7 linked regions of the Homo sapiens genome follow. The protein of the gene in region 5 interacts with the protein of the main gene of each other region in a biochemical or structural test. Each region holds a gene or a part of one and is shown on either strand. Other genes may lie near its edges. The genes, in order: CACNA1A, PDLIM4, CACNA1D, PLEKHH2, DLG3, FZD4 and PLEKHA1.

What was found.
Region 1: the proteins of DLG3 (region 5) and CACNA1A interact in a test that uses a peptide from one of them, tested with the Homo sapiens proteins (one large-scale study listed by IntAct).
Region 2: the proteins of DLG3 (region 5) and PDLIM4 interact in a test that uses a peptide from one of them, tested with the Homo sapiens proteins (one large-scale study listed by IntAct).
Region 3: the proteins of DLG3 (region 5) and CACNA1D interact in a test that uses a peptide from one of them, tested with the Homo sapiens proteins (one large-scale study listed by IntAct).
Region 4: the proteins of DLG3 (region 5) and PLEKHH2 interact in a test that uses a peptide from one of them, tested with the Homo sapiens proteins (one large-scale study listed by IntAct).
Region 6: the proteins of DLG3 (region 5) and FZD4 interact in a test that uses a peptide from one of them, tested with the Homo sapiens proteins (one large-scale study listed by IntAct).
Region 7: the proteins of DLG3 (region 5) and PLEKHA1 interact in a test that uses a peptide from one of them, tested with the Homo sapiens proteins (one large-scale study listed by IntAct).

What each region holds. Positions count from the first base shown.
Region 1 is NC_000019.10:13,296,712-13,300,756, forward strand, and holds part of CACNA1A (voltage-dependent P/Q-type calcium channel subunit alpha-1A), read right to left. Parts: intron 3,946-4,045; coding exon 3,839-3,945; intron 2,643-3,838; coding exon 1,833-2,642; intron 1-1,832.
Region 2 is NC_000005.10:132,256,121-132,260,663, reverse strand, and holds the start of PDLIM4 (PDZ and LIM domain protein 4), read right to left. Parts: upstream 2,969-4,543; 5' UTR 2,930-2,968; coding exon 2,837-2,929; intron 1-2,836.
Region 3 is NC_000003.12:53,808,693-53,812,737, reverse strand, and holds part of CACNA1D (voltage-dependent L-type calcium channel subunit alpha-1D), read right to left. Parts: coding exon 3,968-4,045; intron 2,761-3,967; coding exon 2,440-2,760; intron 1,626-2,439; coding exon 1,332-1,625; 3' UTR 1-1,331. UniProt on the Homo sapiens protein: Voltage-sensitive calcium channels (VSCC) mediate the entry of calcium ions into excitable cells and are also involved in a variety of calcium-dependent processes, including muscle contraction, hormone or neurotransmitter release, gene expression, cell motility, cell division and cell death.
Region 4 is NC_000002.12:43,699,624-43,703,668, reverse strand, and holds part of PLEKHH2 (pleckstrin homology domain-containing family H member 2), read right to left. Parts: intron 4,023-4,045; coding exon 3,061-4,022; intron 2,660-3,060; exon of another isoform or gene 2,588-2,659; intron 1-2,587. UniProt on the Homo sapiens protein: In the kidney glomerulus may play a role in linking podocyte foot processes to the glomerular basement membrane. May be involved in stabilization of F-actin by attenuating its depolymerization. Can recruit TGFB1I1 from focal adhesions to podocyte lamellipodia.
Region 5 is NC_000023.11:70,493,247-70,497,291, reverse strand, and holds part of DLG3 (disks large homolog 3), read right to left. Parts: intron 3,917-4,045; coding exon of another isoform or gene 3,817-3,916; intron 1,885-3,816; coding exon 1,839-1,884; intron 113-1,838; coding exon of another isoform or gene 71-112; intron 1-70. UniProt on the Homo sapiens protein: Required for learning most likely through its role in synaptic plasticity following NMDA receptor signaling.
Region 6 is NC_000011.10:86,948,719-86,952,763, forward strand, and holds part of FZD4 (frizzled-4 precursor), read right to left. Parts: exon of another isoform or gene 3,753-4,045; coding exon 2,424-3,752; 3' UTR 1-2,423. UniProt on the Homo sapiens protein: Receptor for Wnt proteins.
Region 7 is NC_000010.11:122,391,636-122,395,680, reverse strand, and holds part of PLEKHA1 (pleckstrin homology domain-containing family A member 1), read right to left. Parts: intron 3,379-4,045; exon of another isoform or gene 3,309-3,378; intron 2,501-3,308; 5' UTR 2,481-2,500; coding exon 2,340-2,480; intron 1-2,339. UniProt on the Homo sapiens protein: Binds specifically to phosphatidylinositol 3,4-diphosphate (PtdIns3,4P2), but not to other phosphoinositides. May recruit other proteins to the plasma membrane.

The sequences.
Region 1 (4,045 bases), on a different chromosome or scaffold from region 5:
GCTCTCCCTTCAATTCTAACGGCCCAAAGTGCCTTTTCTTTTTCTTTATTTTTTATTTTATTTTTTGAGACAAAGCCTTGCTCTGTCGCCCAGGCTGAAGTGCAGTGGTGCAATCATAGCTCATCATAGCCTAGACATCCTGGGCTCCAGTGACCCTCCTGCCTCAGCCTCCCAAGTAGTTGGGACTGCAGGTGCATGCCACCACATCTGTTTAATTTTTTATATTTTATAGAGATGGGGTCTGCCTCTATTGCCCAGACTGGTCTCCAACTCCTGGTATCAAGTGATCCTCCCACCTTGGCCTCCCAACAGAGTGGCTTTTCAAACTTCCAAAGAATAGCATTAGGTAAATAGAGTTGGCTGAAAATGGCCAAAAATGCTCTAAATTTACCGAGCACTTATTATGTGTCAGCTGCTCTTCCAGGCCCTTTGCATACATTACCTCATTCAATCCTGGCAATGACCCAATTAGATCCCACTATTTCCATTGTGTGAGGCCCAGAGATATGAAGTCACTTTGCAAAAGTCACACAGCAAGAACACAGAAGACTATATAATTCTGGACGACAGTGGGGCTTCTCTTAATAGTTTCCCTGAAATGCTCAAGGCCTCTGGTGCCAGAGAGCCTGGGTTCAAGGACACTGGTTAGAGGAATGACCTTGAGGAGCTCACTCAATCTCTCAGTTTCCCCATCTGTGAAGCCTCTAATCCGAACACTTTGGGAGACTGAGGTGGGATGATTGCTTGAGGCCAGGAGTTGGGGACCAGCCTGGGCAACAGAGCCAGGCCTCATTTCTACTAAAGGTAAAAAAATTAGGCTGAGTGTGGTGGCTCAACCCTGTAGTCCCAGCACTTTAGGGAGGCTAAGGCAGGCGGAATGCTTGAGTTCAGGAGTTTGAGACCAGCCTGGGAAACACAGTGAAACCCTGTCTCTACAAAACACTGTCTCTACAAAAATTAGCCAGGCATGTGGCACATGTCTGTGGTCCCAGCTACTTGTGAGGCTGAGGCGGATGGCTTGAGCCCGGGAGGTAGAGGCTGCACTGAGCTATGACTGCCACTGCACTCCAGCCTGGGCAACAGGCGAGACCCTGTGTCAAAAAAACAAAAACATACAGCATTTTTTTTTTTTTGAGACAGAGTCTTGCTCTGTTGCCCAGGCTGGAGTGTGATGGCACGATCTCAGCTCACTGCAACCTACCTCCACCTCCCAGGTTCAACTGATTCTCCCGCCTCAGCCTCCTGAGTAGTGGGAATACAGGTGGGCACCACCACTAATTTTTGTATTTTTAGTAGAGACGGGGTTTCACTATGTTGGCCAGCCTGTTCTCCAACTCCTGACCTCAAGTGATCCGCCCGCCTCGGCCTCTCAAAGTGCTGGGATTACAGGCATGAGCCACTGCTCCTGGCCAAATACAGCACTTTTTTTTTTTTTTTGAGACAGAGTCTCACTCTGTCGCCCAGGCTGGAGTGCGGTGGTGTGATCTCGGCTCATTGCAACCTCCGCCCCCTGTTTTCAGGCGATTCTCCTGCCTCAGCCTCCTGAGTAGCTGGGGCTACAGGCGCCTGCCACCGTGCCCGGCTAATTTTTGTATTTTTATTAGAGGTGGGGTTTCACCATCTTGGCCAGGCTGGTCTTGAACTCCTGACCTCGTGATCCATCCGCCTCGGCCTCCCAAAGTGCTGGGATTACAGGCGTGAGCCACTGCGCCTGGCCAAATACAGCATTTTATAATATATTTTTATAAACAAATACACAGCACGTGCTACTTTGGCTGTTGTCATTATTAATGTTACCGTCATTCTGCGGATTCGAGGTCACCTCCACTTACTTCCTCCTCCGATGCCTCCGCTCCTTGTCCTCCCTCCGCGCGTCCCCCTCGTACGTGGCTGGAGCGCCATGCCGGTGCCTTCTCCTGCGCTCGCCCCCGTCGGGGCCCTCGCCCTCGCCCTCGCCGCCCCGGGCCGGCCGGCTGCCCTCGCGGTGCCGCGCCCTCCGCTCCGCCTTGTCCTCCGGACCCTCCTCCCCGGGCCTGCGGTGCGCGCGATGACGTCGATGCTCCCCGTCCGCGCCCGTGCGCGGGGACCCGCTGCGGCTCTCCCTGCTGCCCCCCTGCCGGTGCACGTGCCTCCGGTGGGGGTCCCCGGCCTTGCCTCGCTCGGCCTCGCCCTCCCAGAACCCGGGTTGCTCCAGGCTGCCCTCCCGGGCGTGGTGGTCCGACTCGCGGCCGTAGGGTCCCTCCCGGCTCAGCTCGGCCTCCTGGCTTCCCGCCCAGGGCCTCCGTGCGTCCAGGCCCGCCGAGCCGCTGGGGTCCCGGGCCCGATCGTGGTAGCGGGCCTGTTTCCTGAGGAAGTCCTCGGCGCGCTGCTGGCCGAGGCGCTGGTCCACGGTGGGCTCGGCCGCCCGGCTCTTGTTGGTGTTGTTGTTGCGGTTCTCCTGCGGGTCCACCACCAGCGGCCGGTCCAAGTGCGTCTTCATGTCTGGCCGCAGGTGCCGCGTGTAGGCAGCCTTCCAGCGCTCGTCCGGGTCCATTTCGTTATACAGGGCCTCCCGGCTGGCCAGCAAGTTCTGCTTTCGCATCTCACTGGTCCGCTGCTCCCACACGGACTTGGCTGGCTTTTGATTCTTCTGTTGCTCTTTCCTGCAGTGGCATGGTCACAGGACTTAGAGCATTGCTAGGCACTGTAGCTTGGATGGATGACCCAGGCGAACCAACCCACATCTCAGCCTCCCACTCCTGCTCTCCACCCTCTACTCCCCACTGAATGCTAGGAGTCTGTGAGCATCTGAGTCAGGTCCCAGCCTCCTCTGCTCAAGAACCCTCCATGGCTCCCACCTGGCTAGGGGCAAAAGCCCAAGTCCTCCCCCCTGACCCAGAAGGCCCTGTGTAATCTGCTTGTCACCTCCTTGCCTTCACCTCCTCACACTTACTATTCGATTCTAGTCACACAGGCCTCCTTCACATCAGGCATGTTCCTGCCTCAGGGCCATTGCCTATGCTGTTCCCTCTGCCTGGGATGCCCTTCCCCAGGCCCCCCAGTGGCTCCTCCCTCACCTCCTTCAGGCCATGTAACCTTCTAGGTGAGCAGTCCCCAACCTTTTTGGCACCAGGGGCCAGTTTTGTGGAAGACAGTTTTTCCACAGACCTAGGTGTGGGGGGTGGTTTTGGGATGAAACTGTTTCACCTGAGATCATCAGGCATTCGATTCTTAAAAGGAGCACGCAACCTAGATCCCTCAGATGCACCGTTCACAATAGTGTTTGTGTTCCTATGAGAATCTAATGCTGCCTGCTGATCTGACGGCAGGTGGAGCTCAGGCGGTAATGCTTGCTTGCTCACTGTTCACCTCCTGCTGTGCAGCCCCGTTCCTAATAGGCCTCGGCCTGGTACCAGTCCACAGCCCCGGGACTGGGGACCCCTATTCTAGGTGATGCCTTCCCTGACAACTTCGTTTAAAATCACAACTCTCTTCACTCCCAGCATTTGCTATTTCCCTCCCCTACTTTCTCTGTAGTTCCATCGCCTTCTAACACAATATATAATTTACTTATTTATCTAATTTATTGACTCCTTCCCTTGCTAGAATGGCTACACACAGGTGGGATTTTTTTTTTCCTCCTTGTTAATGCTGTATCCCCAGAAGTTAGAACAGTGCTGGGTACATAACAGCTGCTAACCAAATATTTATTGAGTGAAAGTGGGTGGAAGGACAAGAAGTGTCTCTTCCTAAAGCTCAGTTCTGTCAAGGACCACCCCCACTGCTTCCCAAATCTGTGCCTGGGATAGTGTGGACGTTCAGGAGCCAGGGTAGCATCCCAGGGATTAGGGGCACTTACACAGCTATAGACATGTTGGCCGCGGACAGAGGACTCACTTCTGCCACCTCCTTGGCTTTCTGTAGGGCAAGTTTCTGGTTCGCTGCTTCTTCTTCCTCTTGCTCGTCCTAAAAGGCACGTGGAATCTTTGTTCACAAAACATGAACTAGGCCTTGGGGACTCACTTCTGACCCTGTTGCTGACCAGGGGCAACATTTGAAATATTTC
Region 2 (4,543 bases), on a different chromosome or scaffold from region 5:
CCAAATTTAAAACTATGCTCTTAACACCTGCATTTTTCTTCCAAAGGGGGTAAGGGAAAAGAGAGTATCTGAGGGAGAGATAGTGTTCCAGGCAGAAGGACCAGCATGTATAATGGCATATCTGGAGAGAAAGAAGAAGGAAGGTTGTATGGCCGGAGCATCATGAGTGAGGGGAGAGTGGGAGAGATGAAGTCAGAGAAGAGGCAGGGATCAGATATTGCAGAGTCTTGTACACCCGGGTGGGAAGCTGGCATTTCTCCTGGGTGGCTGGGAACCATGGAGGGCTCTAAGCGGGAAGTCACAGGACAGAGTGGAATTCAGGCCGATCCGTCTAGCTCCTAAGCACAGGATAAACAGAAAGAAGGAACAGAGACAGGAACAGTGAAGTCAGGTGGGCGGTGAGGGCATGAATCAGCCCCTTACCGGTAGTGGCTGCATTCCCAGCCCCTGCTCCACCCAGCCTAGATGTGGTGGGCTGGGAGTCCAAGTCAGAACCAGGTGCCACATTGTCCTACACAGTCACAGCAAACTGCAGACTGCCTGGATTCCTCCTGTCTCCACTCTGCTTCTCTAGGTTGATTACATTAGCCTCTCTGTGCCTGGGTCTCCATCTATGTAAGGCCAGAGGGAGTCCTTACTTCTAAAGGCTGTTGTAAGGACTATTTGAGAAAAACAGGGCATGTAAAGCCCCCACAGGAGGCTGGGCATAAATAAGGTGGTGCTCACTACAGGGACTGGAGGGAGCTGTTACCAACACCCATTAGGGTAGGGCCTGGCACACCCTGGATGCTTGGCCAAGGCCAGCCATCATTATAGCTTGTGGGGAAGGAGCCCCGGATGATGTTCTTGGGACTCCTGGAGGCTTCATGGGCTGAGATTGCAAGCCCCCAGCCCTGCCGGGCCGATAGCCTCCTCCCTGTCTGTGTGAGGCTGTCCCTCCCTACCAGGTCCCGCGTAGGGGAGGTCCTGGAAGCAAGGGAGGGGCTGGATCTTGAGCCCCACTGGTGAAGACACTCCCACATATCTTCAGTCCCTGTAGACCTGCCCCAGAGGTACCTGCTAGGCAAGCTGTGGCCTGTGCCTCCCCAGCGCTGTAAATCTCCCCAGATCCCACCCAAACCCAACCTCAGCCATCCTGGCTCCTTGGGCCTGAGCTGCTGCCGCGTGACTTTGGGGGACAAAGGAGGCTCTTCCTGGCAAACCTTCTCCCAGACTGCCTGCCTGGGGCCTGCATCCCCAGTCAGCTCCAAACAAGGCTGTTGCTGCTGCTGCTGCCGCAGCCGCAGCTGTGACGTGTGGAGGCCTTTCCTCGGAGGGCAGGCAGCCGCGTGGGCAACAGATGTCTCAGCTCCCTGCCGCCTGCAGCCGTCAGCCGCCGCCACTGAGCCTGTCAGCGGCCTCACGCCCAGGGTGCCTGGCCAGCCCGCTTAGTGTCCCCACCAGCCCCCTCAGCGGACACACAGCATGACACACACAAGCAGACACAGGCTTGCGTACACACACACACACACACACACACACACACAGCAGGAATCCTATAGGAAAGAGGAGATGAAAGGCTCTGGGATGTGTTGAAGGCCCACCTCACTCGGCCCCAGGGACCTGGCAGTGAGGGCAGATGTGGGAAGCCTCCTAGGACAGCTGGGCCTGCCTGTCACCCTGGCCCCCAGAAACGGGATTCCATGATTCCACGCTCCACCTGGTGCCCACCCCCTCCCAAGAACTGGACAGAAGTCTCTTAAAGCCCAGCCGGCTTGGCCCAGCCCCCATGGCAAGAGGTGGCAGTAGGGTGGGGGAAGGTGCTTCTCTGTGCCTCTGACACAGGCCCCCAAAGACAAGATCAGCCTGTGTGGGAGCAAGGGATGGCCGTCAGATGGTTTCAGGTTATCTCCTCTGCTCCTTCCAGACTGAGAGCCGCCAAGGGCAGGGCCTGGGTTCTCTCCTCTTCTGTCCCTTAGGCTGGGGACCCCCAAGGGCAGGGTCTGAGTCCTCTCTTTTGGCCCTCCAGACACGAGGATGTCGAGGCTGGGCCAGGATCCTGTCTCCCCTAGACAGGCACCCCCTCGAACAGGGCCTGAGTCACCTCCTCCACTCCTCTATCCTCAGACTAGCCACGCTCCAGGGCTGTGCCGGCTCCTTTTCCTTCTCTGTGGGCAAGGCAGGGCCCTGGGAAACTTGAGGAACGGGCCTGAGGCTGTCCTGGCCCCCGGCTTTGTGTCATCTTGTGGGGAGGGGTCTCACAACCTCACAGTTAAGTCTCCCTTTCCCCTGGAAGCCAAAATTCCTCCTGGTCACTTCCCCTTAGGGTGACTGAGGTCGTGAATGAGAGACTGACTCACGCCCAAAGTGGGAAGTGGATGGACCTCTGTCTTCTCAGATTCAGCGAGGACCCCAGACCTCCCTGGGTCACCAAGCTCTGCCGGCAGGGACCCCTGATAGGGGAAGGGGGGCTCTAAATCATTTTGCCCCAGATCTTCAGGCAGGGGGTGAGTCTGAAGAGTTTCTGGGCCTCTGTAGAGCTGTCTAGACCCCTGGCCCATCTCCGCGGGTCCTTCCCGGGTCCACAGTGGCTCCCCCAGATGAGGCCAGCGGGGAGGCGGGTGCGTGAACTCTTGGGAGATTCTTCGCGGGATCGGGCAGACAGGCCCAGCGTGGGAGGAGGGCGGCTGGGGCTGCCTGCCTCTGCCTGGAAGCCGCCTCTACAGCATGCGGGGCGCCCAGGCCAACCCTCCGCCTTCAAGCCTCGGATACACAGGGGATCTGGGTCCCGGGCGGACCGCGAGAACCCGGTCTCAGACATGGGACCGCCCTGCCGCCACGCAGCCGCCAGACTCACCCGTGAGATGGTGAGGGGCGCGCTGAAGTCCCGGCCGCCCACCAGGCGGAAGCCCCAGGGCGAAGGCCCGCGCAGGGTCACGGAATGGGGCATCGCGGGCTGGAGCCGCAGCCGGAGCCTGAGCCGGACTCTGAGGAGGAGCCGCCGCCGCCGCAGCCGCCGCCGCCGCCTGGACGCCGCGCCCGCCCCCGGCCCGCCCGCCCCTGTCCCCACTCGGCCCAGCCCCCGCCCCCGCTCCCTGTGCGCCTGGATTGGCCCCGCGGCCAGCCCGACCCTCCCACTTCGGGGGGCTCTGAGGACCCGCCCTCAGCCCCGGCTGCCGGCAACCCGGCACCCCCACTCAGCTCTCAGAGATCCCCGCGTTCGGACGGCCCCGACGGCCTGGATCCTGCTCGGGCCTTGGATCTGCAGGCCGCGGACCCAAACCCAGCTGTCGACACCGGCCCTTTGAAGTCGCTTTTAGGGGCGGTGCTCCAGCCCGAGGAGGGATGGAGGGCCCACTTGGGGGATGGGGCTGCCCCAGCTCAGATACCTCCTCATGGGCCCGACTGGCACACCTGCGGCCCATCCTGCCGTGTGAGGAGCCCTCTGAACCAAGAACCCTATGAACCAGGGGCTTGCGCAGCACTGGGCCGGGGACGCAGACCCAAAACGACAGCAGGCAGCGCCGAGCGTGGGAGTGGACACAGAAAGGTCCTCAGACTAGTTTGTGGAGGCCAGTAAGGCTTCCTGGAAGAGGTGGTCCCTGACTTGTATCTGGAAGCAAGGTGTCCCTGCTTCCCCAGAACATTCAGGCCTTCTCTTGCTGCTTGCAGGCTCCTCGCAGGCCACCTCCCTGTCTGCACAGCCCCCTCCCCTCGTCCTTTGCCAGGAGATTTGTTTCCCCAGGTCTCCTGAGAAAGTAGCAGCTGGAGCGGCTGGGGTCGTGGCTGTGCAGTGTAAAGGGAAGAAATATATGCAGCGCTTCACTTTGGGCCCTTTTCTCTCCAAGGTCTTCTCTCCATTCCCAACCATTATCCTCCGGGGATGTACTTGAACAGCCAATGCAGATGCCATGGCACCACCAACCTCCCTCTGGTTCTCTCGGCACTTCTATCTGGCTACATCAGGGAGACACCTTTTACTTTTCCAGACTCTGTGGAGGTCTCTCATTTAGCCCAAATCCTTAACCTTATGTGTCCTTTTAGTCAAGCTGTGATAAGGACCCTGCTCTTGGGCTCCTCACAGGTGGTGGGATGAAATGTGTCCACTGGGTCTCTGACAACCCGCAAAGAGGAGAACTGCTTGAGAAGCACAAACCTAGGGCAGTCCAAGGAAGGGAGGGGCCCTTCAGAGTAGAATGTGGGTGCCTCTGTAGGAGGCAAGATGCTGCTATCTGTTCAGCTGGGAGAGAAACAAGTGGTGTGTGGTAGCGGTGTTTATATGGGAGTGTATTTGGGGTGTGTGTGTGGGGGGGGGTGCGGTGTCTGAATCCATTAGAGCACCAGCCATTGGGCTGTTCTCCATCACTTTGTGGTGGAGGAGGTTTCTGCTCAGCCCCTTGCAGACTTGGATCCCAAGTGAAGAAAGGTGGAAGGGCCAGCAGGAGAGCTGGTCACTGCATTGTCTCTCTGAGGTCTGTAGGCCAGAAGCTCCCCAGGACTTAGACCCTACTAAATGGGGTAGAGAGTAAGGGGCAGCCATCACTTATCACTGGCTGTCCTGAGG
Region 3 (4,045 bases), on a different chromosome or scaffold from region 5:
GAGCAGCTATATCTCATCCACCTATGCATTTCTGCACCAGCGATGCAAAAAACACCCTGGGTGGGCCACAGAGAAAACCGTAACTATGGATACCCAAGGGGCAGAGCAGCCAGCTGGACCTGCTCTGTAATTCACTTACTTACTTACCAGAGGGTGGTTCAAGTCAAACAAACAAAACCAAAGACAGTTGCAACCCATGGTGGATCCAAAGGTACAGTATCAAAATCATGGAACTCTTGCCCAAAGAAAAGACTGCAAATAGTCATCTGGTATATCTTGTGGAAAGATGATAGGTTTATAGTGACTCAAAATATTTTAGAAAAATTTCTGTAGTGTCAAGTTCTTTCAAACTTAAAATTTTAACCCCAGAGGATTTTCGCTGAATAAATGAGAATTGGCTCTATTTCTTCTACTTCTGGATAGCCCGAGTAAAAATACTAATAATTTCTAGATTTTAGTGGGGAACTACAATTATTAGGACCCATGGATATTGCTGCAGTTCAAATACAATACAGTAATTACAAAATATAGACCATCTCTTTACAAATACAAATTATAGTATATTACAAGTCATGTACAGTAAATCTATAATTTTAAACAAACTAGTGTATCTAAGTTTACCTGGTTGCGAGTGCATTATTATTCCAGTTTACAGTTGCCCTTAGCGTGACAGTCAGAAACCGACCATCGGAGTGATATTCTCTTATGTAAACTGGCGTCACATCACAGAAAACCTTATTTATGAGGTCCCATTGCCCTCGCAATAATCACTGGTAGCTGGGTTCTGACTTACTTACACACCGTATTTCAGAACAGCTAAACAGGAACCAGGACGCAGTGTATTTGGGGGAAAGGGTTTAAAAATGGATATGTTGGGCCCAGTGACTGATATGCTAGACCGATGGCTGAGGTAACGACACAGGTGTGATGATCGTCATCACCTTTAACTTTCCCCTGCACCCCGCCGCCATGCCTTCAGTTGGGTGGGCCTGGTGCCCTGGTACATGGGAGAAGCAGACTCCACAGCAGTGCCCATCTGGACAATGGGGCAGGGCAGGTCTGGCCTCCTCACCCATCCTCTGTGAGAGGGCGGGGCCTGCTGTTTCCTGCAGCTGGGGCCGAGCGCATGGTACTCTGCCAGGCTCAACCGCTTGGGACCTGTTCCTACCAGGTTTATGGCTTTCTTGAGGCATGACATCTCTTATACAAAAGTCTAATTAATTGAATATTACTCCCAACTAGTGCCTAAACTTTCCTAACTATGAGGCACTTTTCCCCTGGCTCTCCTGCGCCCCACCTGAGGCCAGAGCCAGTCTGCCCCTCGCTGGGGGCTACAAGGTGGTGATGCATATCATTTCATCCGCCAGGTCCTCCTCATCCCTCCCAGGGTCTGGCTCTTCGTCGCTGTAGCCAGGACCAAAGTCCTGTAGCTCATAGTCCTGCCGGTGTGAGAGGGGGCCCACATCCCCGTTGGCTCGGGGACGCACGTTCCCATTAAGCAGGGTGCTGGCTGCACTCTCCATCTCGTCGATGGTGAGGTCACAGGCATCAGCGATTTCGTGTTTTGTTGCTGACACAAATTTTGGGTCCCTTGCATAGCGTCCCAAGCCTTCGGATATCAGGACCTGTACAGAAAAGAGGGATGGATGGCATGGGGGTGTTATAAGGCTTTGCAGGGCAGGGGGACGACAGAAAAATCAACTCCAGTGCTAACTTAACTGCACCGTGTGCTTTGGGGATGCAGCTCAATCATGTTTTCTAGACCTCATACATAATAACTAGTGTAAATGGCTTTGAAAATGTCCTGGAGCTAAAAAACTACACATGGCCCAACAAGAGTGAAACCCACTGGGGAAAGACATTTAGTATAAACTAGAAACATATGCCGGAACAGCACCCATAATGCCAGCACAGCTCATTTATGAGAATTGACGGTGGTGACCAGTTTTTGTTTTTTTTTTTTTTTTTTTTTTTTTTTTGAGACAAGAGTCTCGCTCTGTGGCCCAGGCTGGAGTGCAGTGGTGTGATCTCGGCTCACTGCAGCCTCCACCTCCCGGGTTCAAGCAGTTCTCCTGCTGCAGCCTCCTGAGTAGCTGGGATTACAGGCATACACCACCACGCCCGGCTAATTTTTGTATTTTTAGTAGAGACGGGGTTTCACCATGTTGGCAAGGCTGGTCTTTGAGCCGCTGACCTCAGGTGATCCACCCGCCTCGGCCTCCCAAAGTGCTGAGATTACAGACGTAAGCCACTGCAGCCAGTGGTGGTGACCAGTTTTTACTCATGCTTCAGGTACATTCCTGCTGCTCAGAAGTGTCTGATTGAGGCAGCCTAGCTCACAGCCTGGCCGCCCTCCCACCACTGCCCTTCCTGCTGTTACAGTTGCACCTCTGCTGCTCCTGGTGCTTCCTGCCCACCACGGCCAAGAACCGTACTCACTGCCTCCACCAAGCTGTCCGCACTCCTCTGCTTGTCGCTGTTTTTGTTCCGGAAGCTGCTGGGGACAGTCAGGCTGGCTGGTGTGAAAGTCCGGTAGGAGATGTCGGGCTCGTCTGTGTACCAGGAGCTGCGGTGCAGGGACGGCAGGCTGCCGTTCACCTGGTCCAGGGCCTCTGACTGCTCCACTTGGATCAGGGGGGTGTAGCACGGTGTCCAGTCCCGGTAGGGAGGGGTTGCTGGAGGGGTGGCCCACGACCGGGTCGAGTGACTCGGTGAGTACTTCTGGGCTTTACTTGAATCTAGGCCGGCAACTGCCATGATCTGAGGAAAGAGGGGACTGTTGGGAGACCAGAGGTTCTCAGAGGTCCGGGCCTCAAACCTTCTGCGCACAGACCAAGCACCGGCGCTGCGCTCGCCAGGGGCAGTCCAGGCAAGGACTTGGAAAGGACATGGGCACACTGAAGTACGCTGAATGAATGGGCGGTGATGACTTTGTTTTCTAGCAGACTGTGCTTTCTTTTACCCCGAATCCATAATGCATTTCCTTTGGCTTTTCCCAAGGAGGTATCAGTTGCTAATTCATGAAATTGCTTCAGAATGAAGAATCAGGGAAGCCCAACAAGCTGTGGGTGTGAACACACCACCCAGTTCATGCTGGGTTTAAATACCGAAGTACATTCAGGGGAAACTACCACTTCCCAGCACTTATAGGAAAACAGCTGGTTCTCTTTGCTCTGGAGTAATGCATCCTAGAGCCGGCATTTGGCATGTGCTAAAGCACTGGGTACAAGCCCCGGTCTTACAATCCCACCACGGCAGATGCACCTTGGGGTTCACACTCTGCAGAGAGGGACGGGGAACGCTGTCTGTAAACAGCACAGGTCCATGCCCACCACCCTGTCGTGCACGAATGAATGGCATCTCTGATGTGATATTTTCAGAAAGAAAAAGCGCCATATTGTTATCCTTGAGGGAAAGCCCTAGTGAGTGGGCTCCGGCCCCACCCTCTTGCCTGTGCAGCCGCCCTCAACGTGGGCAAACTGTTCTCCCCAGACTGCTCCCTTTGTAGGCAGGGGAGGTTAACCCTGCATAGTACCCACAGGGCCCTGCCCATGGAGGGACCCATAAACTTAATGAAGGAACCACTTCTTAGAGAAAATGAAGGGCTGCACCGCTTGTTCAGAATCAGCCAAGTGGCCCCCACTCCCTGAGCTCAGATCACATCAGGCTCTGTATTCAATGCCAGGAAGAGGTGGTGGGGATCGCAGGGAGGCACCTGGGCAGTGAGGCCAGCTTTGGCAGCTGGCTCCCTGGATTCAAATGCCAGCAGTCACTTGTGTGAGCTTGGGCAGCATGGGACTCATGGCCATAGCTATTTGACAGGATTGTTACAAAGATTAACTAGACTGTAGGTGAAGATTCTCTCCTTCCCTCCTGGTGCTTAAGGCCAAGGAGAAGGGAGTGACCTGATGGGGGTCCTATGTGGGGTGCCCCTAGGTGTGGGGGCAAGGCCAGGTGGGCCGCTCACCTGTTGCTGCATTAGATGCAGAGGCAGGGCCGTGCGATGGGGGAAGATGGGAGACGACGGGACCTCTTCCTGGCTGCT
Region 4 (4,045 bases), on a different chromosome or scaffold from region 5:
CACCACCTTTAATATTCTTACCATTCTAGAATATGGTTGGCGGTGGGGAGAAAAACCATGAGTGGCTATAACATTAAGCTAGAAACCATTCTCAATCATTGATTACACATAAACACCACTTTTAATATTCTACTATTCTGGAACATGGTTAAACAAAGAATGGAAAAACCTGAAGTCAGAAGTCATAGATACAGTAGCATTAAATGCTATCGCCTTCCTATGTCAATGTACATTTCACTCAAGTAGAAGAGATACCTAAAGTCAAACAAGAAATGAATATGAGAATTGCAATGGAATTTATATTATCTTGTTCCAAAAGTAGATTATTTTGTTTTCTCTTCTCTTCTGAAAAATCTCTGAAACAGGTACTGGACAGGTTACTAGCCCTGCTCCCTTGAGAAAAGGGACCACAGGTGGTTCCTAATGCATAGAGCAACATGTCCTGAATTTAATAATGGGTCTAACTTGGACACAGTTGACTGTCCAGGACACAGTGGGCAACTAAGGCCATCCTCTTCAAGACAGCCAGTGGCTTGAGAGGCAACTGGCATGAGTTCTCCGACTATCAGGGACATTTTCGATTGAATAGTGCCTGGCTGAGTGAATCAGATGTAGTTTCTTTGAGTGTGAGATACACCCACACACAAACAGCAACAGAAAGACATATAACAATAAGGGCAGTAAGCAGGAGACGGGAGGCAGTCTGAAGCCCTAGGAGACTGGGGGAAAGTGGTTAGTAGTAGAATTAGAGAGAGGGGACTGGAGGCCTGGGAGGACAAGCTGAGCCACTGGGAGCAGGGGCAATGGATGTCACTTGTTTCTATCGGAGGTACTGCTGACTATCACATGTTGTCCCTCTAGAGTGACTATTGTAATTTGCATGGTATTCCAGTTCAATAAGGATAGGCTATGCCTTAAAATAAGCTCTTAGAAATTTTTAAAATAAACTCATATTTATTGAGGCAATTAGAATACATCTCTTTTCCTTGAAACCTGAAAATACCTAATAAACACAGAAATAAAATCTCAGACTTGGCCAGTCTGCTGGAAGGCTTTTGAAAAGCAATACTACTTTTTCAGGACCGAATAGCTTCAAAAGAGTAAGAGAAGACAGAATGGAAAAAAAAAAAAAAAAAAAAAAGTAGTAGAATGGGTTGCCAAATAAAACGAACTTAAAAGCCTAACCTAAATCTCTGAAAATCTCAACATCATAAGATAGGCAAAATTTCAATTTCTTGCTGCCTAAAGTATAACATAATTAGAATTCCAGAGATTCACATGCCATTAACTTCCACTTTCCTGTGCTATCCAAAATTTAGTAATAAACTACAGAAGGTTTCATGTGGATATTGAAATAAAATGTCCTCTTGAAAGCAAATAAGAGCACATACATCTTAAGTTCTGAATTTATATTAGAAAAACATGTCCACCCTAATTTGCTTAAAACTGCATCAGTCACAAAATAAAAAATATAGTAATAAAAGAACATGACTCCAAAAACCAAAAGAGTCCTGCAACCCAGATGTTTCTCTGGAGGCCAAAGGTTAAATTATGCCAGCATGTGAAGAAAAACTTAAATCTATAACAGATCATTTCAGACCAGGTGCAGTGGCGTGACACGCCTGTAATCCCAGCACTTTGGGAGGCTGAGGTGGGTGGATCACCTGAAGTCAGGCATTCAAGACCAGCCTGGCCAACATGGTGAAACCCCACCTCTACTAAAAATACAAAAAATTAGCCAGGTGTGGTGGTAAACGTCTGTAGTTCCAGCTACTTGGGAGGCTAAGGCAGGAGAATTGCCTGAACCCAGGTGGCAGAGGTTGCAGTGAGCTGAGATGGCGCCATTGCACTCTAGCCCGGGAGACAAGAGTGAAACTTCATCTCAAAAAAAAAAAAAAAAATTAAAATTAAACAGATCATTTCATTTTATTTCAAATATTGGAAGAATTTTTTTTTTTTTTTAGTCTAGCAGTGTTATCCTACTAATGGTCAATGTTTCAATGGAAGAAGATTTTATCTATTCTAGGTCTGTAGAAAGATACTTTGGAAACCAATGGCTATATAAGCTCAAAAAGAAAATTAAATTTATCTTAAAGCCAATCAAATAACGACTAAGTTCAAAAACTTATAACTAACAAGAGTTAAGTGTCCCGGTTCAGAATTCACCCAAAATATCACAGTTAGGGGGAACCCTTCTTTCCCACCTCCAATGTTTCCTTCCACATGGAGGAACCTCCAGTAATTGAACACTGCTGATCCCTCTCCACCTATTCACTTTCCCCTCCCCAAGAGGAAGAGTGGCTTAATGTGATTGGTAAGCTGAGAAGGAGAAACTGGGCATGCAGAGCCTGGCAACTTCCTCTCCCCTTTCTCTTGAGAAGTAGCTGCCTGCAGGAAACAACCATCTGTTCTGTTTTTTGAGGTAGTAAGTTTTAGAGGGGCATGGCTTCAGTAGCAGAATCCTGTGGTGGTCCAGGGCTTCCTGGGAACAGGTGACTCAATCCAGCTAATCTCAAAGTTCAGTATTAGAAAGCTCATTTGCCCACTAATTCTCTAAAATTAGTTTTATCAGTAAATAAGGTAATACCTTGATCTCCCATCTGTCTTGTCATTATCTTATTTCTCAATTGATTCAGAACTCAGTGAGGGAAGAGAAGAAGAAATTTTATCCTAAAAACTGGAAAACGTCAGAACAAAGCTGGATTTGAAAGGAAAGAAGAAAAGAAAAAGTAAAACTTGAAAATGAGTGTGGACACTTTGGGAGGCAAAGGCAGGTGGATCACTTGAGGTCAGGAGTTCAAGACCAGCCTGGCCAACATGGCGAAACCCCGTCTCTACCAAAAATACAAAAATTAGCCAGGCATGGTAGTGCATGCCTGTATCAGCTACTCAGGAGGCTGAGGCAGGAGAATCACTTGAACCCGGGAGATGGAGGTTGCAGTGAGCCAAGATCGCGCCACTGCACTCCAGCTTGGGCGACAGAGCGAGACTCCCTCCCAGAAAAAAAAAGTGTTGAGAAAAAAACTACTGCGTATGTGTTACATGCGGTGATATAATTACCCAAGAAGGAAAACGGTGCAGGGGAGGAGTTGGAGGTTTGCTGTATGCCACCTTCTTTGCTGAGTCACAGTGTTCCTGGTCATCTGAATTTGGAGAGTCCAAGGAGTCATAGGAAAATAATCCATCATCACAACTCGTGTCCATATTCTCTAAAACTTCTGTACTGTCTCCATCAACTAGATCAAGATCAGTTTCCTGAGGTCTCAGTGGTCGTATCATGCTTATAGCGTTTCTATTTGTACCAAACATCCTGTCAGAGCTTAACTGTGGCTGGCTTAAGTGCCTTTTGGCTAGTGCTACACTTATACTGAAAACATTAGGAATCCTTAACTTTGGGGGTGGCAGGTGTGATGAAGGCACTAATTGTGTTCCTTTTCCAGAGAGTGAGTTAGGATGCTTTGGCATTAAAGCTGGGGTCAAAATAGGGCTTGGGGTGTTGGCTTCACTCGATGAAGATGAATAATCGAGTCTCTGGGATTGAAATTTTTTATTCAGTTCATCCGAGGAACTATCTTGTTCCTTTTTACTTAATTCAGAATTTCCCTTTCCAAGAGGACTATTTAGAGCTTTCCACTGTGCCTCCTGCTGCCAAGAATATAGCTTCTTGTGTTCTGGTCTCTTTATGCCAAAAGTCTCTTCCTCAAATATAGAGCTGCTGTCATCAGATGCTGTCAGATACATTTCACTTCCCATCCTGCTACACTGGACCCCTTCCTCAGATGTGTGACTGGAGAGGGTGGATGTGCATCTGGACTTGGATCTTCCTTTGCTCCCGTCTTCCTCATCAGAGCTCCAGTCACTCACAGGAGCCCCAGAATTCTGGGAGATGCCACCATCTGTGGCAAAGCTTGTTCTTGTTTTCCGATTCTGTTCTGAGCCACAAGGGGTTTGATGCAATGTTCTCTGGCCTCTGTTGTTTTCTAGAACTTGGTTATCAACAGACTTTTCTGGAATTTCCATTTCTAGAAAAGGATACATCATATCA
Region 5 (4,045 bases):
AACACTGGAATGAGGATGGCTGGGATACACAGTGGAGCTACACGACATGGAAGGAATGACACACACTTACTGGAACTGCTTTCGCTGTCACTGGTGTTGGATGTCACTCCCTCTGCAAGCCAACAAGAAAGAGACTCCAATTCAGAACACACCACTGAGAGGTCACATGCAGCACAAAACTCAAATGCTCCAGGAGCGAGACACTGAGCTGCCAACTGAGTCAGGCCACCAGAGGCCTGCCACATCCAGGCTACCAACTGGGAGGCACAGCTCCAATCCTGAGCCCCTGGCCCTCTCGTACTTGTCCCCAGAGCCCTCTTGGTCTGCCAAGTCCCTCCCTATGTACTACAAGCCATACTTCCTTCAGCAGCATCCTCTTCATCTGAATCAAATTGACCTGGATGGTTTCCAAATCGTATTTCAAAATGCATCTCCCAAGGCTAACAACAGGAAAGAAAAGACAGTGACAGGAGCAAAGAGAAGTCCAGGGACCAGTCTGCTCATGGGTGTCCCCCGCCCAACAGAGCCCCTGAAGTACAGAACCATGTGGCACTCCACAACTAAGAGGCCAAACGCTGGATGGGTTAAGCAGACACCAGGGAGCGCTGCTCTGACCATTCGGTGGGCTCCCCAGCCTTCCTGCCACCACTCCAAAGCAGGAGAGCCTGGCTTCAGTGGTGAGAGGGGAAGCATCTCCATCCACCACCAGACACATATGTCAAAACACAGACAACAAAACCAACAAAAACACCTTGAGGACAAGGCAGCCCTCCTGTCTCACACAGCTGGGATCTGCCCATCTCTTAGTGGTGAGGGAAAAGAAAGCTCAGGCGGAGGAGCAGCGCTCGTAGGAGGCACAAACAAAGCCCGCCCATCCAAGATGACACGCGAATGAAGATGAGACATGGACACACCAAACTATGGAGAGAGATGCTGCTCATTTCAGCCAAGACCACACTGTTCCAGACCATGATATGCTGTGGCCCCCCCACCCAGAAAGGACTGGCTGAGTTGCCACACATGGCTAGTTCCTGAACAATCCCCATGGGCAACTCCTTTGCCTTTGGTCTGTATTATTTATTGAAGGAGAGTATATGCTGATAGAACCCATTTGGTGTCTGTGCACCCTTGCACGCAGCAGGATGGCCACTAAGGCCTCATCATCTAGGTCTTTTTCATTTTCCACTCCAGGATTCTTTTCCAGAAAGGAAAATGAGGTTGGAGTTTTCCTGAGATAAAGCACTAACTATATATGGTCCATAAATGATGCTGAGGCCCCTAGCAGACCAGCTCAACCCCTTACAGGTGCTCTGTGGGAAGCCAAACAGTGGCTGTTTGCTGAGGCCCGGGATCTGCTGGGACATCTCAGATGCAGGTTGGGAAAAAGGGGTCACAGTACCCTTGCCCCTAGTTAGAGGACTGTTAACAGCTGCAATTCCTACACCCAATTCTTTAGCGTGGTATCACTGGGAGAAGAATCCAACCAGCAGGCACCCCTCCCTTCGACAATAGGCTAGAGATTAGCTGAGTGGTTACCTTGGAGAAACATTTCAAGCTTACTTCACTTCTAAGGTGGGATGCCATGCTCACGCCCTCCCACTTTGAGTAGCAAAAGGTAAACAAAGGCATGAATGATATGGACTTATTTGGGTACTAGGGATCCATAGCAAACATGTAACATATGGAGCCACATGCACTTCTTCCTGCTGTGATGTCAGAGTGCTCACAAACACTGCCCTCCCCTCACCCTTCACCCTCACCCATGTCCCCAATAGCCCCACCCCCACTATCTCCATTCATGCCACAAGTACAGTGAACGGTGTGTAAGTTGGACTTACTCAGGTTCTTTGCTCCATAATAATCGTCACTTAACCCCGGGAAGTCCTGATTTCACAGACAGCAAGGGCGGAGAGAGGACGACGGGGAGAAGAGGGGGGAAGGGGAAGGGATGGGAGGGAATGGAAGAGAGGGAGAGATTTGGGGAGAAGAGAAAAAATAGAGAAAAAGACAAGGGGGGAGGAAGAATACAGAGGTAGGTGAGCACTAGTGACAGAATTATGAAACACCATGAAGACCTAGCACTATAGTGAGGCCAGGAACTTTGCCACAGAAAGAACATCCCAGGGCAGATAAGACATCAAGACTTCATGCTGCCCAATTCATTGCCAGAGGGCCTTGGAGTAGACTAGCTTTCTGAGGTGTCTACAGCTGTAGGCCAATGGGACAGGACAGGTGACACTCCAAGGCTTAGAGCACCTGCTTTGACTAAATTTTGGTTGTGGAGCCCAGGTCTCTGTTTGCCCCTGAAATCACCATTTCCCTCTGCAGTGCGTGAAAGAGCAAATGTCCGCGTGTGCCAGGTAGGCAGATAGAATTGCCATCACCTCAAGAAGCCTTTGCCCAATACTGATTCACTCTGTTCAAACCCTTCAGGAAAAGTTTCGCATGGTGTAGAGTGTGGCCTCCAAAGCTGCCCTGAGCTGGACAGATCTTGGGGGATGAGCTCAGCTTCTGGAGAAGCACTAGGCACCTTCAACTCTGTCATCCAGTAGATACCCCCTCGCCCACCAGGCGGGACCACTGAGCAATGAACACCTCCCCAGGCTGGGCTTGGCATGGAGGGACTCTGGGACTCATCTGATGAAACTATGGTGACATCACCTCAGGCCTCTGACTCAGACTGTCTCCTAACTGCTCATGAGCAGAGCCACCCCGTCTATGGCTTCTCATTGAACTACTCCAGGATGATGAGCCGTGGCTGCCATCTAGATGAGGGCACCCTTCTGTCCACCAGGTACCACCCCAGATAGCAATGACTTACACATACCATGACTGTGGACCAAGCTGGCCTGACAGAAGGACATTTCCTATCAGAACCAGTCAGTCTCCTGCCAGCCCCAATAGACCAAGACCCCAAGATCCCTCCATGTAAGACAGAGGAGTCACTGGTAAATGAGAGATGTTTACTGTTCATGATGAGACAAGTGAGAAGACATTTTTCAAGCCAGACCTGGTGTTTAAGGTTAAGGTTGGAGCAGTTAATTGCTGAGGCACACGGTAGAGCAAGAAGATTTATCAGGATTAAATTTCTTCTTCCGTTGAATTTAGCTCAGTGTGACTGCTCTTCCTACCGAACCAACTTTGTGTTTCTCAATAGATCTTTATTTGAACAATGTGGAGCAACACTCCTTCCATGTCAACTCATTTAAGCAGGAAGGATTCTCCTGGGAAAACTGGCTCTGTAGGCACTCTAGGATGACAGCGAGTCTGCTGAGAGTTGTGTGGATATCCTGTATGCTTATGCACGTGCATGGGATTCCAGAAGTAGCCCCAACTCCAGGGATCCTGGGAAGAAAAGGCTCTTCTCTTGACATACATGAGTGAAGTTAAGGGAAAGAAAACACAAGAGGAAGAAACCAGGAGAGCAACACTGAGTCCCTAGACCTTGTTCTCTTGAAAAACCATTTTCCTGACCCTGACAGTCTAGCTAAAAAACCGTTCCTCACCACCACAGCAGAGCTCTGTCTGGCACTTCCACTGCTAGTGCCAGGCACTTCCTGGAGGCTGACCCTGGGACCAGTCCCACCTCAGTGCCTCCAACATTCATTCTAACTGAGGAGCAGGACAAATAAAACCCAACATCTCCTTAGGCAGACCAGTTTCTGCCCTGACTCTGTAGATAAGCAGGTGCACACGCACACAGGCAGGCACGAGGCCACACGTGGCCCTGCCCAGGCTTCTCTCGAGGGAAGGGCAACTGAGGATGAGAGGATGGGGCTGCAGATGGCCTGCTCTCTGGACTCTGCTGCTACTTACGTTCCTGTATGCTGCTCTCCTGGGCCATGTTTTCTTTGCTCTTGTAAAATGGAAACTTTCGAGAGAGGCGGAAACTCTTTTTACGTTTCGTTTTGATCGACTGTGAAAGAACATGAAGATGGAGGGGAAGGACAGAAGAAAAAAAAAAACAGAACAATGGATTTTAAAGCATGCAAGAAAAACTAAAATGGAGACAACGGTGAGCTAAATAAAAGACCATCTCTCACAA
Region 6 (4,045 bases), on a different chromosome or scaffold from region 5:
TTATTTAGTCATTGACAAGTATCGATCACCTACTCCATGCCTGGCTTTCTGCTAGATGCTGCCTTGGTCACACAATCACTGACACATTATGAAGAAAACTGCATTACAAACCTCTATACTCTAACAGCAAGACCAGTCCCCTACCGCCTGGTCTTCCTTCCCCTGCCTGGGCCAGAGTCCCTGCACAACTCCCAAGACACCAGAGCAGAGCGTGAGTAAGGGCAGGCTCTGCCCCTGGGTGCGTGCTCCAGGGCCGTGGACAGTTATGGGAACTGTCTACAAGCAGCACAGGGAGTTCACATTTTACATTTCATAGGCAATGGAGTATCAGATGGAGTTAAAATGGTTCTTCTGGGGATCAATTCTCATGCTCCTGGAGCCTGACCTAGAGTCTAGCCAAGGTACTCAGACTGGGCACAGCAGCAGGGGCCACCTGTGCCCACTTAACTTCAGTCTCAAAAGCCAAGACTTTGCCTTCCAAAACATACAATCGACTTTACATGCATCTTGATGTCAGAGAGCTCAAGAACCACACAAAAACAAAAAGGAAAGAAGAAAGGGAAATGTCAAACTATGGGCATAAGGCTCAAACCAAATTTTTAAAAAAGAGGAAATGCTTACTTCCAGAATTTGACCACCTTTTTGGAATTTTGAGTCCCTGGAAATGTTTTTCCACAAAGTGTGATTGAAAAAAAAAAAAAGAAAAAAAAAAGCTTCCCTTCCTATTTTTTTAAGGCATGAATTAATAAATAAATGTCATTGCAAAGCAGTTGCTGAAGCAGACAGGTATGAGTTACAAGGAGAGCAACCTGTGACATAGTCAATTTGTCCCCAAGATCTCATGATTAGAACGCCTAAGGCAAGGTAAGAGAAAGGCCAGTTACAGTTTTAAGAGAAGTGCAATTTTCGAGAGGCTGCTGGGGGTACCCCCTTGTGAAGAACGTATGCATAAATTTTAAAAGCTTTGGATACCTCTGCTAAAGGCAATTAAGACCTGGGCTATTAGAGTTTGCAGTTCATTTCATATGGTCTACACTTTATTCCCTACTAACCAATCAGGCTTCTGGCTGGCATTCTGGAGATTCATTAAGCACCATATAAATACTCCAGGCCACACTGCCTCCAGTGAAATCTTACAAGGAGCCTTTGCCAATTACTAGGAAACAATTACGCACCAAGTAGTTGGATTAGCTGTCCTCAGTTCCCTTTATAAAACTGAAAAAGTCTCCATTGTCCTAAGTAGACCAGATTCTGATAACATTCTTATGCTTTAAAAAATAAAAAAATTTTTAAAGGCACTATCATTCTGAGAATGCAAGTTGAAGTTGACCATAGTTTTAAAGTCAGTTGAGTATACTATGTCATGGTCCAACAATGTGCTTTTAATTGTAATTGACACACAAAAATTACACAGCTAATCTGTGTGAATGCAAAGTTGCCAAGAAACTTAACATTTCAGCTCTTCCAGACTGGCGTCTGCATAGATGCAATCACACAAGTAAAATATATTAAGTCCCCACTGCTCAATGCAATAGGTCTCTGGGGTCCGTCAGGTAAGTCAACTTAGTAAATCTCATTTTCCTCTGAATTAAGTGATTGTCAGAAAGTGAATCACCCTTCCTTTTCCCCTCTTTAAGCATGCTGCAGTACAAAAATTCTATAAAAATACCTTTTTTGAGTCATTAACATAAAATGAAGAAAACAGCAGCAGCCAAGAAGAGAGATGTTGAAATTTAAGAGAGGAAGACAGAGAAGAAAAATCCACTGGATACCTTATGTGTGTGAGTACAGTACTTTTGTTTGTTCAAATAACTGTTTTATGACAAAGGCACTGAAAGATTCTAACACCACTTCTTGGGAGTGCAGTCCACAAAGTTCTAAACAGCAGACAGCGCACCACAGAAGATGTTTATGTTACATCAGCCAAACTATAAAACTCTTGTAACACTTTTCTGAACCCAGCGTTTCCAGTGTTTATAGATTGCTTTGCTATCTGAAAGACCCAGTTAGTATTTAAAATGGTAAAGGGTTAAAAAAGTTAATATTTCTCCCTGCTAGTTACCAACTCACAGCTCAAATCCCACCCTGCAGGGGAAAACAGTATCGCCCTGGACTTCCTGGAATCTAGGCAGGACCTCCACGCTCCAAGCTGCAACCTGCTAAAGTGATCAACGTTTTGATTTTTCACAGCTTTGAAAGCCTCTAACTGGCTTTTCCATTTTGGATCATTCCAAAGTCTGCAGCAAAATCATTGGTTTTTTGATGCTGGGGTCGGGGTGGGAGGCAGTGGGTTGACGGGGGTCACTTAATTGTTGCTAGTTTGTTCAAACTGAGATTCACTGCATAAAACTTTTAGTAGAATTTCCTCCAAAATGCTGGCATTCCCCCCTTCAAAATGAAGAAAGCATGGAGGCTGACTAGCCTTATACCACAGTCTCACTGCCTTTTCCAGGCTTCACCCAACCATTTCCTCTCTTCTCTCTCTTTACCTTTCCAGAATTCACCAATCTGTTGGAACACTTCTGCCACGTGTGAAGAGTTTTGGCAGACCAAATCCACATGCCTGAAGTGATGCCCACCAACAAAGACATAAAAATTTTCAACATTTCAACAGCCATGTTGGAATCATCTGCAGAATACCGAAAAAGTGCCCAGTTGGAGATTTCATAAAAATAACAGGCAATCACACACGTTGCAGGAACTGTGTACAGTACTGAGAACACCCCAATCTTGACCATCAGTCTTTCTAACTTGTCTGTCTTTGTCCCATCCTTTTGAAGATTTGACCGAATTTTGAACAAGGCCACCAAACCTGCAGCAATGAACAAAGTTCCAATGACCAAATAAGTAAAGAGGGGAGCCACCACGAACCCGGTGAGGGCATCGAGATTTTGGTTTCCAACATAGCACAAGCCAGTCAGTTCATCTGCATCCACCAGTCTCATAATCAAGATGACAATGGTTTTCACTGCGGGGATGGCCCAGGCTGCAATGTGGAAATAAGAGCTGTGCATTTCAATGGCTTCATGACCCCATTTGAGTCCTGCTGCCAAAAACCAAGTGAGTGTCAGAATAACCCACCAAATGGAGCTGGCCATTCCAAAAAAGTACATCAGCAAGAAAATTATTGCACATCCTGTGTTCTTAAGTCCTTCTTGGATGAGAACAGGTTCTGCTGCCTCTTCAAAATCACAGGATATCCTTTCCCGGCCTACAGTCAGCCTGACAATATAAGCAATGCTATAAATATTATAGCACATACTGAGAAATATGATGGGGCGCTCAGGGTAGGAAAACCTAGAAGAATCGATCAGGAAGGTCAGTACTGTGAAGGCAGTGGAGATGAAACACAGGCTGGCCCACACAGCCATCCAGATATCAGTGAACTCCTTGGCTGAGCGGCTGTATAAGCCAGCATCATAGCCACACTTGAGCACACAGTTCAGGCTCCTTTTCACCCAGATGTACTGATCAGAATTGGTTCCCACAGAGTGACACTCTTCCCCAGGCTGGATGGGGGTTTTGTGAGGTAAGGGCACCTCTTCATCACCTGGCCCTTCCATGCACATGTGGTTGTGGTCGTTCTGTGGTGGGAATTTGCTGCAGTTCAGACTCTCTGGCCAGGCAAATCCAAATTCCTTCAGGACGGGTTCACAGCGTCTCTTGACTGAAAGACACATGCCGCCGCATGGGCCAATGGGGATGTTGATCTTCTCTGTGCACATTGGCACATAAACAGAACAAAGGAAGAACTGGAAAAGTAACAAAATGAACACACACAAAAAAAACAATGACTTGGAAGTTTGACCAAATGCTCCCACAAAGCTGAGTTGAATGCTTCCAGGCAATCTAGGTATCTACTTTTAAACCAACCTATCGGGAGTCTGTCTGTTTACTCTGACCTCAAACAAGGGCGCCTGATAATCCATCACTTACATACTTTTCTTAGTTTGGCTTTAGTAATCCTTTCCAGAAGAATGTACATAAATAAATAAATAAAATAAATAGGGTCTGAAGAATTGCATAAGCCCTCTTTGCACAACAC
Region 7 (4,045 bases), on a different chromosome or scaffold from region 5:
CTTTACCAAGGTTATTATGATCAGTATAACCATGTTATTATACTTTGACATAAGCAACTAGATTGAACCATATGACATTGCCATTTTTTTAGTAATTCAAAATGGCTGTATATTAGCAATTTCATATGGTTCAATCTAATTGCTTATGTCAAGATGCAATAACACGGTTATACTGAACATAATAACCTTGATAAAGAAAGAAAATAATATAATAATCTTAGCAAGACATTTTACTAAAGTTTTCAAGAGTAGGTATGTCTTGATTATTACATTTAAAAGTGACACCAAGTTGGTACTAATGGCTAATACACTGGCTGGCAGAATCAAGATTTCCTAAGTTGGAAAGAAGATATAAAATTAATAAGAACAAACTAAAAAATATTTAAATTCTGTACTTAAAAAAAAAACTGGCACTGTGTCCAGAAAAGCCAATGCATTAATTCTAACATAGAGATCTGGATTTTAAAAGTTTATGTGGACAAGACCTAGCTGAGTGCTATAGCCAAAGTGATCTAGTCTCCAAACACGCCATAGGCTCTCTTGCTTTGATCTCTGCCCACACTGTTCTTTGAGCACTGGAATACTCAACTTTTCCATCTCTTAGCCAATATTATATCCAAACTTCTAAGTCAATTTCAAATGTTACCACTTCCATGAAGACTTCAACTCCTTCTACTAGCTGTGTAACTTTCCTCTGAATTCCAAGTTCAAGTTTTATTCAGGGTAATAAATATATTCTATTTTGTACTTAACTCCTTTTAGCTCTGCTAAATGGGTAGTACTGATAAAGGAAGAATGACAAGAAGAATCTATTATGTAGGAACACAGAAAAATAATCAAGGAGCTTCAAGTAAAATTCAGGAGAAACCATACATATGTCAACCAGACCTTGTGAAGAGAGAGAAAAATCAGGGAGAGAAAATAGGCAGAACTGTGCAATGGCTCATATGGGTGAGGAGAGGTCCCTTACAACTCAAATTCTACATAAATAAACATACACACATTAGTATCTACTATAGACACATATATATCTTGTCTAATCTAAAATCAGTATATAGTGAAGAATACTAGACTACTTATCAGCAGACCTAGTTCCTGCTCTGTGAAACAGAACAGAACCTTGTATAAGTCTCTGCTCTTCCCTAGACCTTCCATTCCTCACCCACACGAGAAGCCTACTGGACAAAAATCAGCTTAGAAGTCTGCTAGAGATTCATCCCTTGCTTTGCACATACTTCCTTGCAACATACAACCCCATTTTTAACTTCTACACCAATTTTTATTTGAAGATAAAAAGTTCCAAAAGGCCGGGCGCGGTGGCTCATGCCTGTAATCTCAGCACTTTGGGAGGCTGAGGCTGGAGGATCACCTGACATCAGGAGTTCAACACCAGCCTGGCCAAGACGGAAAAACCCTGTCTCTACTAAAAATACAAAAAATTAGCCAGGTGTGGTGGCACACCCCTGTAGTCCCAGCTACTCGGGAGGCTGAGGCATGAGAATCACTTGAACCCAGGAGGCAGAGGCTGCAGTGAGTCAAAATCATACCGCTGCATTCCAGCCTGGGTGATAAGAGACTCCATCTCAAAAAAAAAAAAAAAAAAAAAAAAAAGTAGAGAAAGTTGAAAGTTTAAAACTACTTCACAGATGATATCTAATCTCAGGCCTCTTAAGGCTGGGATTCCAATTTTTTAAATTGTAGCATTTACCCCTGTGTTTTGCAAGGCAACAATAAAATCAAACTGCATTTCAGTTCATGGATGGCATTACAATGACTGACTCAAATCTGACACTACAAAATAAAAGGACTACATATGTGCAAGAGTATCATGTGGTTAAGTCATTTATTTATTTAAAAATAATAGTCTCTATCCTAGATGCAGCATCTTAAACCTAAATTTAATCTCACTAAAGGGACCCTGGTATTAAGCCTCCTTAATGCAAGAAAATCATCTATCCCTGGTCTTTATTTTAGCTGTTGTTTGAAATACATGTTACAAAAAAAGTATTTCTTATTTTTGGGACAGCTTCAATTGTTATTTTTTTCTGTGACTCAAGTTCTAATTTTCTAAAACCTAATTTGCCACCAGAGAGAGTATTTCTCTCTCGAGGGAAAAATATATACAGAAGCATTAATTTTTATCAAATAAACTTAGTTTCACCTTCTGAAATTCAAACAAAACAGTAGAGGTCAGGGGTGCAGGGCAGAGAGGACAGCCAGTAGAAATAAATCTAAAAATATACTGCTTAAGAAGACAAATCTAAAGCCTGTATAGTATGTTAAATACTTAAATACAACTTTCTGTGCTTTTAAAAGATAATCCTTGGGATTTTACAAACCTGTGGATTATCCATGTACCACACGAAACTATCTTCTCTGGTATCCAGTATGAAGTACCTTCGAAGAAATTTCCCACTGTTTTCATTTTCTTCAATGTCTAGAAAACCACAAATGCGATTCTGACGATCCACATAAGGCATTTCTGAGCTTGAACATTACACTGTAAAATAAAAATATTAACAGTAAGCTCCCTATGAAACAGGAAAGTATTTCTCATGGACTGCAAATCTGTTCAATGAGGGGGCAACTTGCCAACATTAGGTAAGGTCAATTAAAATGAACACACACCAACATCTGAGGCATTGACAAAAATCACTTTTGAAATTCAGTTTGTGAAGAGTGGTTACTAAATGTAACTATTTATTCACTGTGATGGGGACAACAGAGAGCTACTCACCTCAGCTGAATAATTTACTTACTTTTTCCCTAAAAAAACCCCAGGTGAGCCAAAAAAAATAGTTATCCAAATTTTAATTTCCTCACAAATCAAGATAATCTATCCTTTAGATTATTTTAGAATATTTTTAAATTCACAAAACAACAAAAGTTAAAATTTAGTGACCACTTGCTACATGCTAGGCTCTGTACAAGGTTCTTTTCCATATGTTAACTCTTTTAATCTTCTAAACAATCCTAGGAGTAGGCATAATCATCCCCAGCAGATAAGGAACTTAATACACAGGGGAAGTGATTTTCCAAAATTCCAAAACTAGTAGGCCAAGAGTCAAAGCCTGAATCCAGATTACCGCACTCTAGATCTCCTATCTTATGCTCTACACCATCCTCTCTAAAAAACCCTTGAATTGTTAAAACTAAAGTGAATCAAAATAAACTAGTTAATGTACTGGAAAGAGAGATAAGCAGGTATGATGTGCCTCCTGATGGAAGACACAAACATCACCTATCATGTGAACATAAAGCAACAAGAAAAAATGTTTTTTAGATCCCCTCTATATCCAAATACCAACCTACAGGAGATGCAGAACACAGAGGAACATGCTAAACTGCACCAAAGGAATTCAATCAGCAAGAGCCAGACTATAAGAAACAAAGGAAAAAAAAAAGTTTCTTTAGCAAGTAAATTATTACAAGAAAAAAAAGAAAAAGAGAGACATTATAGATTAAAATAGACTTAAAAGGTGTATCATATTCTGGTCCTAAAGTACTGCAACTTTTATTGTACTGATTAAAGTTAAAAAACCATTAGGTGCCAAGAACTGTTTCTCTAGAGACTACAGACATGTGATTCCTTCTTGATGTGATGCTTAGCCCAAATCTGCACCAGACAGCTGTTACTATTCTGGTACTTCTATAGCTGGCACCATCACATCTTTTGGCAGGATGAATTTACATAACTATTTATTTAGAGGCTCAAGGTAAATTTAACTTACAGTGAAAATTCAATTACAATGCACACTGATATACTATGTATCTGCATCACTATTCCATATGCAGTCAGAGAAATGATAAAATACACCAAAAAGTTTTAAATAAAACCATCCAATAAGTTTGTGTGTTGTTGCTGTTATTGTTCTTATAAATCTGATACTTTAAAGGAAATAATTTCTTTAATAAATTTACCATGTTTGTAAAAAAAAAAAAGTTTACAATGTAATCAAAGCTTGAAAAATCAATACTCTATACTACCATATACCACAGGTAAAAGCTATCAACTTGCCATGAGAATAGACATAGATCAGTGGAA